Regions from separate parts of the Homo sapiens genome. Here region 2 is linked to region 1. A link means that fine-mapping ties the variant in region 1 to the expression of a gene that starts in the linked region. Tissue or cell type: lung. Region 1 holds a variant in brackets; the other region holds the start of a gene. All regions are shown on one strand. Distances are from middle to middle.

Region 1 (5,225 bases):
AACCTTGACACTCATAATTTTGAAACCTATCGTTCATTACAAGGGTTAAAATCTAAAATGTGACTGTGCAGGTTGAGATGGCATGTTACAGCTCCTGCCACCTCTTTTTCTTGTGACAGATGGCTTCCCCTCCTGGTTGTAATCCACTGCTGATTTTTTTCAAAGAGCGAATACCATGTGTTCCCCATTTTGGCTCTGGTTGTGTTCTGCCCACTCATTGGCTTCAGAGGATCTTGAAACAGGAGGTACTTGCTGCTGGCATTTATGGCAGGAAGTGGATACAATTGCGATACTTTGTGCCAAGTGTTCATTTATTAGAAAAATTGTGCTTCCTAAAATTAAACATTATTTCTCTGTCACATCAAGAGTAAAGCTAAATTTTATTACTTTTTAGAATATGCTTTTCCCTTAATGTTGTATTATAAAAATTTTTTGGTGGCAAATTTATTACAAAATAGATTTTTAAATCTGAATTTCACATACTCAAAGATTTATAGTCTGTGCAAGACATTGAATGAGTAGCTCTAATTGCACTAGTATAATATAATTACGAAAGGGATCTGTATCACAGAGACTTCTGATCACAGAAACAGTTGGAATTGTTTGTGATGTGTGGTATTGAACTTGTGATTGCATATGCTTTGTGGTACCTATAGACAGTAGTGTTTGTCTATTTTAACTCTCTTGCTTCGGATCTCCCCTTGAGTAGATTCAGCTAAATAAGTTATAAATTTCACCATCTTAGGCCTTCTTGAAAATTATAAGTATCTGAGACAGCTTAATTTCATAAAGCTACTGTGCATATTTGGAAGTATGGTGTTTGGTTTTTTAAAAAAACCTGGCAGGCCAGAGTAAGCAAATTGTTTTTTTATGTTTTTGTCAAGAAACACCCCAAGATAAATGTAAACAAATATTTGCGCATTACCGTCATTGATACTGGAATTTGACATTTCTGTCCTCAGAAGTCACTGTTCTGTCAGAGTCTGCTGTACTTGCCTGAGTGAATAGTGCAGGATTGGCAAAAACGTTGCCTGCTCATGGCAGATCATCTCTAAATCTCTCTTGACAACATCTCTAGCTGAACCCAGATCAGTGATTCTCAACCTTGGCTGCATATTGGTATCACTGAGAAACTTAAAAAACAAACAAACCAAAACCTGATGCCTGAGTCTCACCCAAACCCTCAGATAATTTGATTTGATTGGGCTTGGGGGTGGTCTTGCTGTGGAGATTTAAAAAATCTCCCCAGGTCATTCTAATGTGAAGTCAAGGTTGGTTGAGAACCACTGGCTACTACAAATGGATAAGAGTTGGTAGTGTGAACTGAAATGTATTTGCCATCCTCAGTCTAGTGAGGGGATTTTCTAACCATGCCACAATATATAAACAATTTGCAGTTTGAATGGATAGAGGTTGGTTATCATTGGAATTTGAAAGGACAAATGACAAGTAACATCGGATGATTTACCAGTGTTTTGTGATCTTTTTTTTTTTTTTTTTTTTTTAAGATGGAGTCTCACTCTTGTTGCCCAGGCTGGAGTGCAATGGTACGATCTCAGCTCACTGCAACCTCCACCTCCCGGGTTCAAGCGATTCTCCTGTCTCAGCCTCCTGATTTACAGGCATGTGCCACCATGCCCGGCTAATTTTGTATTTTTAGTAGAGACAGGGTTTTACCATGTTGGCCAGGCTGGTCTCAAACTCCTGACCTCAGGTGATCCGCCCGCCTCGGCCTCCCAAAGTGCTGGGATTACAGGCGTGAGCCACTGCGCCCGGCCAATGACATTTTAAAAGAATTGCCTTCAGAGGGTAGCTGGAAAAGCAAATGGATGTGGGACAAGAGGTTGTTCCACAACCTCCTGGGGTGGGGATACCCGTTCTGTGATGGCATTAAGGAGAACGAGAGGGCTGAGAAGAGAGCAAAATGATCAGCCCTGGATTTTGGGACTTGGCCAAAAAAGAAAGGATGGAACAGGACGTCAGGATAAGATCTAAGACTTGAAGCAGAAACTGTACTTCTTCCTGACCCAGGAGGTGTGAGACAGGGAAGTGGTGGTAGCAAACAGGATAGAATGAGAGGTTCCCTTTTACACCCAAACTTGTTCTTTGCTTAGTGGCAGAAGGCTCAATTTTTCTTTATTAGAGCATTTTCTTTATTACAGCACTATGAGCTTTACTATATGTGAATCACCTGTGAGCACTTGTTAAAATTTCTGGATCCCTCCCAAAGTTTCTGGTTTAGGACTGCTGGGGGAAGGCTCAGGAATCTGTATTTGTGAAGGTTAACTGAACCTTTTTTGTTTGCTTACCATCTATTCAGTGTTTTCCCTATTCTTTGTTCTATTTATTTAGTAATTTAAAAAATTGACTCATTTTAAAAAACTGAATCTTATTTTAAAATGAAACTGTCACTACTACACGTGGAAAACATTTGCCAAAAAATAAAAAATGAAAGTGTAAATACATAACTATTAAGAAAAAGGTCAGGCCGAGCACTTTGGGAGGCCGAGGCGGGTTGATCACGAGGTGAAGGAATCGAGACCATCCTGGCCAACATGGTGAAACCCCATCTCTACAAAAAAATGCAAAAATTAGCTGAGCGTGGTGGCGCGTTCCTGTAGTCCCAGCTACTAGAGAGGCTGAGGCAGGAGAATCGCTTGAACCCGGGAGGCGGAAGTTGCAGTGAGCCGAGATTGTGCCACTGCACTCCAGCCTGGCAACAGAGTGAGACTCAGTCTCAAAAAAAAAAGTCATATATGTACCACTCTGAAGATTATTTTTAATATCATTTTGGGAACTACTAGCGATTCTGAT[A/G]CAGATAGTTTTGTCATCATACTTGGAGAAATATTGAACTAGAGACAAAAAGTTTCACTTAGATTGCATGATTTTCAGCTACTGTTGCACACTTGGAATCTGGGGCATTTTTAAAATACTTTTGGTCAGCCCCCATCCCCCGATTTAATTGGTGTGGGCTACAACCTGGACATCAGGATTTTTAAAACACTCTCCTAAGGTAATCGTAATGTATATTCTGGGTTGAGGATTTAGAGGTTAAAAAGCATATAATGCAGTTAGACTAAGAAGCATAAATTCATGAATACTAAAATACACTTATCTCGGTATAATTAGAAATAAAGAAGACTGGCTGGGCATGGTGGCTCATGCCTGTAATCCCAGTGGTTTGGGAGGCCGAGGCAGGAGGATCACTTGAGGCGAGGAGTTTGAGACCAGCAAGGGCTACATAGCAAGGCCTCGTCTCTACCCCAAAAAAAAAAAAAAAAAAAAAAAAAGGGCAGAAGAAAAATTAGACAGGTACAGTGGTAGGTGCCTGCAAATCCCAGCTACTCAGGAGGCTAAGGTGGGAGGATTGCTGGAGTCCAGGAGGTTGAGGCTGCAGTGAGTCCTGATCCTGTCACTGCACTCCAGCCTGGGTGACAGAGCGAGACCCTGTCTCTTATAACAAGAATGAAAAACACCACAGTGACCACCTGGGGGATGTGGGCAGGGGGAGAGGAAAAGAAGGTGAATTAATAAAGCACTAAGGCACCGTGTCCTTATGATCGCCTCTGCTCCTGCCTGCTTCTCTTGTTTTCTGTTCTTGATGAATAGCGTGAATTAATAAAGCACTAAGGCACCGTGTCCTTATGATCGCCTCTGCTCCTGCCTGCTTCTCTTGTTTTCTGTTCTTGATGAATAGTGTGAATTAATAAAGCACTAAGGCACCGTGTCCTTATGATCGCCTCTGCTCCTGCCTGCTTCTCTTGTTTTCTGTTCTTGATGAATAGCAAGAGCTTTTAAATTGTCAGCTAGTCCCCAAACGTAAGTGTGCATCAGAATTAACTGGAGGGTTTGTTAAAACACAGATTGCTGGGACTCATCCTCAGAATTTCTGATCGAGTAGGTCTGGGGTGGGGCACAAGATTTAATTTCCCAGGTGATGCTTCTGCTGCTGGTCAGGGAACAACACTTGAAACACTCATCTAGTTAACCAAGCTGAAAACTTTAGGACATTAGCCTGACATTTATTGTCTCTGTGTATTTTATATATATCCAGTGAACTTTAAAAATAATTACGTAAACACAAACCTGTGTTTCCATCACCTAGAATTAGTAAATGTTAATGGGTGTGTGGATAAATATTAATTATGAATAAATATTGCCTTTTTGGTGATAATAAACCGCTGTGTTTTATTTCACACTTTTGAGTACAAGGAATAAAAAAATACAACTTTTCTGGGCTTGAGATAAGTGCTCTTTAGGTTAAGCTATAACACCGAAGAGAAAATAGTGCTCCATTAACTTGTTTCATCAGTCTTTTAGGCAACCAAATGAGAAAAGCAAAGAAAAACAGTACAGTCTAGATTGTATACTCCATCTGAGAAAAAACATTAAAAAGTATTACGTATCTGAAAATGAAATTGTCGGACAGGCGCGGTGGCTCATGCCTATAGTCCCAGCATTTTGGGAGGCGGAGGAGGGCGGATCACCTGAGGTCGGGAGTTCAAGATCAGCCTGGCCAACATGGTGAAACCCCGTCTCCACTAAAAATACAAAAATTAGCCGGACATGGTGGCAGGCGCCTGCAATCCCAGCTACTCAGGAGGCTGAGGCAGGAGAATTTCTTGAACCCAGGAGGTGGAGGTTGCCGTGAGCCAAGATGGTGCCGTTGCACTCCAGTCTGGGCAACAAGAGTGAAACTATGTCTCGAAAAAAAAAAAAATTGTCAGCTGCAATCATTTTATCCTGTTTTTCTGTTTGAATAGTTTATTTGAATAGTTCATGGAATTAATAAGTTGAATTTATTTCTATATCTAGAAACTTGGGAGGGGAAGGGTAAACTGTTATGTATGGTATAAAAAATTTAAAAGTGTTGTGAAAATACTATTTTCAATTCTAAAACGCTTGTTCAATTCTAAAATGACTTGTTTCCCCTATGCTTGATATAGATCAAGAGGGAAAAAGTATTAATGGGTATTATTTATTCAGCAAACATTGAGTTTACATTCAGGACTGTCAACTTGACTATGGAACAATTCAAGTAGCTTTCGTTAGTCTTGCCTAGCTTTTCGTTATGCATTAAATATGTGCTTCATTCAGGAGGAGATCACCCCACCCCAGCCAGGTTAGTTTTGTCAGGTAGAAATAATGCTGTTTTTATATTCTCATGAAGAGTGTATGTATTTTTTCATCGTGGAGCTAATGCTAGGATTCCCTGAACTTGCTAG
Region 2 (5,225 bases), 60 kb before region 1:
CTTTAAAAGTTCAGTGACTTTATCTTTCAATATTTTAATTGAATTTATAATTTGGCAATTTATTTTAAATTTCAAGATCTATTTTTAAACCTTGGATTGTTACTTCATCTGAGTATCCTAGTATACTAATTAGGTTTTCCTTTCTAAATTCTCTGAAGTTTCTGTTTATCTGCCCCCACAGTCCATGTTGGAGACTTTTCTTAAATACCTAATAACACTTAGTTGTCTGTTCATACGTATGAGGCAGTTGGAATGCTGATGGGGAGTCTTGTGAACTTGGGAGGTGTCTTAGTCTATTTTATGTTGCTATAAAGGCATGCCTGCAGCTGGGTAATTTATAAAGAAAACGGGTTTGTTTAGCTCACAATTCTGCAGGCTGTACAGGAAGCAAGGCACTAGCATCTGCTCAGTTCTGGTGAGGGTTTTTGTGCTGCATCAAGACATGGCGGAGAAGGTCAAGGAAAAGTGTCTGTGCACATGCAAAGAGAAATCAAACCCGAGGTGAGTCCTGGCTTTACAACAAACCACTCTCCAAGGAACAAATCCATTCTCCTGATAACCAACATAGTTTCGCAAGTGTGAGAACTCACTACTGTAAGAATGACACCACGTCCTTCATGAAGAATCTGCCCCCATGACCCAAACACCTCCCATCAGGACCCACCTCCCAATACTATCACACTGGGAATCAAATTTCAACATGAGATTTGGTAGAGACAAAAAAACCATATCCAAACCATAGCAGGAAGTTCCTGCCAACTTGCCCAACTACACTTTAAAGTGGGTGGGTAGGAAACCAGCTATTGTGCTAGAATAAAGAATACTTTACTCTTAGGCCCTTCAATACTCAGTTAACCCAAATCTCCCCAGATTATCAGAGTGCTTAATTTTAGCCTGGATAAATGCCTAGATATTGTATCTGAGATATAGGGAGGGTTCTGCTCTTCCTTATATAGACCTTTATTTAGTCTCCCTGGTCTCAACTCTGCTTCTCACTCTTGCTCTGTCTGGTAGTTATCTCCAAATCTCCGTCTCCCTAAAGCACTTCTGGGCTGACAGGTCCCCTTCCTTTCTACAGCACCCTCTACACCCATTCTACATTATGCTTTTCTCCATTTTATTTTGTCAGACCACACTTACTTTTTGCATGTCAAATAAAAAAAAATTATCTTCCGATGTCCCCCTTCTCATTTTCTATTTTGTATCACTTTTATTTATCATCATTTTATGGGGTCTCAGGAAGAAGAGACAGTAAATACATGTGCTCGGTTAGCTAGCTTTAATCAAAAATCCTAAACGTAGGTTTTAAAAAAGATAACTGGAGCAGGGCAGGAAATAATATTTTTTGCCAGTGTGGTGGCAAAAAATAAAAAACAAAAATCTGAATCTGTGTTAGGACAGTATTTCCGTGTATAACATAGCGCTTAGCAACTTAATTCTCCAGATCCACATATTTTAAGGACATGATGTATCTCAGACACCTACTTCAAACCTCACTTTACAGTTAAGTAAGACCACAAGTAGAATGAATTGCCTGAGGCCACACAAGTAGACAGTGGGAGAATGAGAACAGAAATATCTATTGACTCCTAGTTGAATTTTCTCTTACCTTACCACACTGCTAGGGAGTAACAAGATGGGCAGATCACGAGTCAGATGAGAAAGGTCATGAAAAATAGTCAAAGGATGACTTTTCCTGGGTAAATAGCCGGATGTCCAAGAAATGAAAGGCTGGTCTGGCAGCAGCACATCGTCTAACAGTTGGTAGTCATATGTGGGAAGTACTGAAGGGGGAGATGACAGCAGGCCCAGAAACTGCAATGATCCAAGTGCATGTCGATCCTGGGAGGGAACAGTTAAGAGTCCGGGCAGGATGAAACAGTAGAAACTGGTGAGTGAATGAATGTGAAGGCTGAGGAGCGACTGCAATTTGTTAATGGGATTATGAGGCAGTATAAAGTGGTTAATTACGGTGGCGGAGGTAAGCAGGAGTAAAATGATGGCTTTTAACTCCTCTCAAGGACACCGAAAATTATTTTAATAAACACTGGAAGGCTGGGAATAAATATAATTCACACCATTCTTACTTTCTTGGTTTAGAGATAGCTTATCTACATCCTTAAATTAATGGCTGTAGCTACCCTCTGCATGGCTCCAAAAAAAAAACAAAAAACAAAAAACAAAACCAAAGCCGGCTGCGAGTCTGCACGAGAAAATCGGGTTGCACCAGGCCCCAGCCGCCCGCCGATTCGCTTAGCTGTCGGAGGCTAAATAAACAGCTCCCGAAGCAGCGTTTGGCACAGCGCAGGGTCGGAACGTGGACACTAATTTCCGCCCACGCTCCCCGCGTCCTGGCGGGATCACCACAGACACGACGTCCATTGCTGGGGTCCTCGGCGATGCCCGTGTGCGCAGCCCCGCGAGTCTCAGGTCAGAAGACCACTAATTTCGCGGCCGCGTTCCACGAAGCTAAGGGGCAAAAAACCAGCTTTCTTGGGACAAAGCGTCCCCCCAGCAGCCAGGGTCGATCCCGGCGCTGCTCCCGCGGCGCTTGGCTGCCCCGGGCGTAACGGGCCACGAGAAGTAGGGGGTGGGGCGCCGCTTAGGTTTGGGAAGACACGAAGCGGCTCCTCGGGCTTCCAGCGTCCACTTCCTACGGCAAGCAGGAGGAGACAAGCGCCACCCTGCGCTCGCGGAGCCGACCCCGGCTCTCCCCTCCCGTGGCCGCAGGGGTCGTGTGTGTGTGTGTGTGAGTGTGTGTGTGTGTGCAGGGACGCTCCGCGCCCATCACTCTGTTTCGGTGCTAATCGACCGCCGTGGCGCCGATTTCCCCCGCTTCCCAGTTCCTCACCCGCGTGCCCCGGAAGGCGCCCGGAGGCCCCCGGGCCGCCGCGTCACGCTCCCGGGAGGCTGAGGGAAAGGGAGGCAGCCGAGCCGGGAGCCCGGGGAGGCGCGCTGCGCCCCGCGGCGGGGCTGGGGGCGGGGCTAGGTGTCTCGCGCAGGGGGCGGGGCGCGGTGACGTCGCGGGCGCCTGGGCCGTGCTGTGGCGGCGGCGGCGGCGGTAGTGGCGGCGGCGGCGGTGCCTGGGCGGCAGCAGCAGCAGTAGCGGCAGCCCTGAGGACGGTGAGACGGCCGCGGCGGCGGCGACAGCGCGGAAGTCGCGCGGGACCCAGAGCTTCCCCCCTGTCGCTAGTGCTGAGGCTTTCGCCTTTCCTACCCAGCTTCTTGCTCACGGCCCGGGCTGGGCTGGGCAGGGCAACGCGCCCCCGGGGAGGGGCGGAGCTGTAGGTGAGGCTTCGCGACCCCCTCCCCCTCCTCGGCAGCCCGGGGGGTGGGGAGGGGCGGGCCCCACCCAGACCACCGGCGCCCACCCGCGGGCTCCACCCAGCCGGGCTCCGGGATCGGGCGGGAGCCGAGGCGGTAGATGTGGGGATCCTGGGGCGGGAGGTGGGGGAGTGGGGACTGGGGCTCTGGGCACTTGGGGAGCGGAGGGGGGGAGGCTTAGGACTAGTGAAGCCGCGGACGAGGTAGTGGGGAGACGGAGAAATTGGGGAGCCATGAGGTTGGGGTGCGGTCAGGGTGGATCTTTGGGTTAGGTGAGTGATGTAAAATGCTGAAGATGATTCTTTTCTTTTCGATGAAATGGTGAGATAAAAGATGAAGTGTATTTCAAAAGGACGATGAGCTGTGCATGTTGCCTTTGAGGCAGTTGCAGAACCTATTTTATTGCACTAGATCTCACGTTTCTACTTTAGGGTTCGATTCTTTTTCTTCTGGCGGGGTGGGTGGGGGGTCGGAGAGGGAAGAGAATCCCCTTACTTTGGCTCAGGTAAATTGTGAGCGTGGATGTATCTGAAAGTTTTACACCGAAGAAGAGGGAGATCTTCGGTTTAGACAACTTCGTTCCGGCAGCCACCATTTGGGTCGCATTACGCTTAGCTCCTTCAAGGTGGTGTCTTCCAGTTTTTTTTCCCCCCAATGCCTAAAAGATCTCTTTATACCACCCTTTTACAGGCTTTATCCTGGCCCCTTGAGAGAAGGCCCCAAACTCAGGTGGTTGCTTTGGAAGGCACATTGCTGAATAATAGTTGCAGGTGGTTGTGGTTGACTGCTTTGGGTGGATAAAGTGAACAATTGGAATAGTTCTGTTGGAGCTAATTATATGAAAAATGCTTAAATGTTTTAAAGTACAACCGTCTTTTATAGCGTGTTGCTTGCTCAGTACACCTTGACTTTTAGACATTTTGTGTTCAGTGCTAAATTGTTGAAATTTTATTTCTCATTTGCAGTTATGTTTCTTGCAGTCTTTATTAAAACACTTTAAAATGAAATGGAACTCTTTTTTTTTGGTAGGCTCCTCAATTTCTGAGAAATGTTCTTGGAGTCAAGTGCTTTAAAAACATTTTGGGGGCAGGTGTGTCACTTTGTATGGAAATATTAGAGTAAGCAGTGTTCAATGTTCTTCACATCACTCTTTCACAACTTAGCACTGTAAATCAGAATCTTCTTTTCTGGATTCTTGCTCCCTGTTAGATTACAGTATTCTCTGGCCCTACTTATCAGTTAGTGTCATTTAAGCTATTTCTTGTTCAGAAAACAGGTCCCATGATGGACATGTATTATGTAATGGATGGAAGTAGACATGGCTCTCAATAATTCATTTATGGAGGAAGAGAAGCTGTCAGAAAGTGGGATTTAAGCAGTGACTTTCCCAAGGCTTGCCTAGTTTATTTGGGAAAATAGCCAGAGAAGTGCTTTCTTGTAACCCAAAAGAGAAATATACAGATAAGAATTTCAGTAGTTGCAGATCGTTGCTTTTTCTAAGTGCCTACTTAATGAGCAGATTATTGTCTTCCAGCAAATACTTCTACTTTATAGAGAGGTATGGGAAACAGGACATAATAGGTATTAAGTGAGAAAGTGTGTGTTCCAATTTTTAATTATAAATAAAAGATTTAATTAACTGTATTCAGTTAATTCATTTGGTAAAGTGAACAGTTTTGACTTTGGATTAGTTAGAAGGAAAACAAAATTGACATATCTAGTTTTCGCTTTTAAATTATACATAGACTTAATTAATTGGGACAAATGTGAACTAAGATACTGGGTAAAACTTGTGTGTACTCCTAAAATGACATTTGCATGGCTGGTAGTAAGCTGTGATTCTTGTCCTTGTAGGAATGAAATCACATAATTTGGGGAAAGTCTTAAGGTAAAAGTAAGCT

Evidence for each region. PIP is the estimated chance that this variant, and not a neighbour inherited with it, causes the effect.
Region 2: it holds the start of ERC1, and the variant in region 1 is fine-mapped to the expression of ERC1 in lung (TOPMed, PIP above 0.99). The same link has a PIP of 0.9 or more in monocytes.

Annotation. Positions count from the first base shown.
Region 1 is chr12:1,048,265-1,053,489 of GRCh38, forward strand. The region is part of intron 2 of ERC1 (ELKS/RAB6-interacting/CAST family member 1); the gene reads left to right. Among named protein-coding and RNA genes, the nearest start is that of ERC1, 60 kb to the left of the region's middle. The variant A/G (reference allele first, on the strand shown) is at 2,815.
Region 2 is chr12:988,200-993,424 of GRCh38, forward strand. It overlaps ERC1 (ELKS/RAB6-interacting/CAST family member 1), which reads left to right and starts at 3,024. Exons shown (of 19, transcript NM_178040.4): 1 at 3,024-3,123. It also overlaps a transcript of RAD52 not described here. RefSeq lists enhancers at 1,855-2,417, 2,979-3,540 and silencers at 2,239-2,288, 2,699-2,808, 2,829-3,338, 3,544-3,838.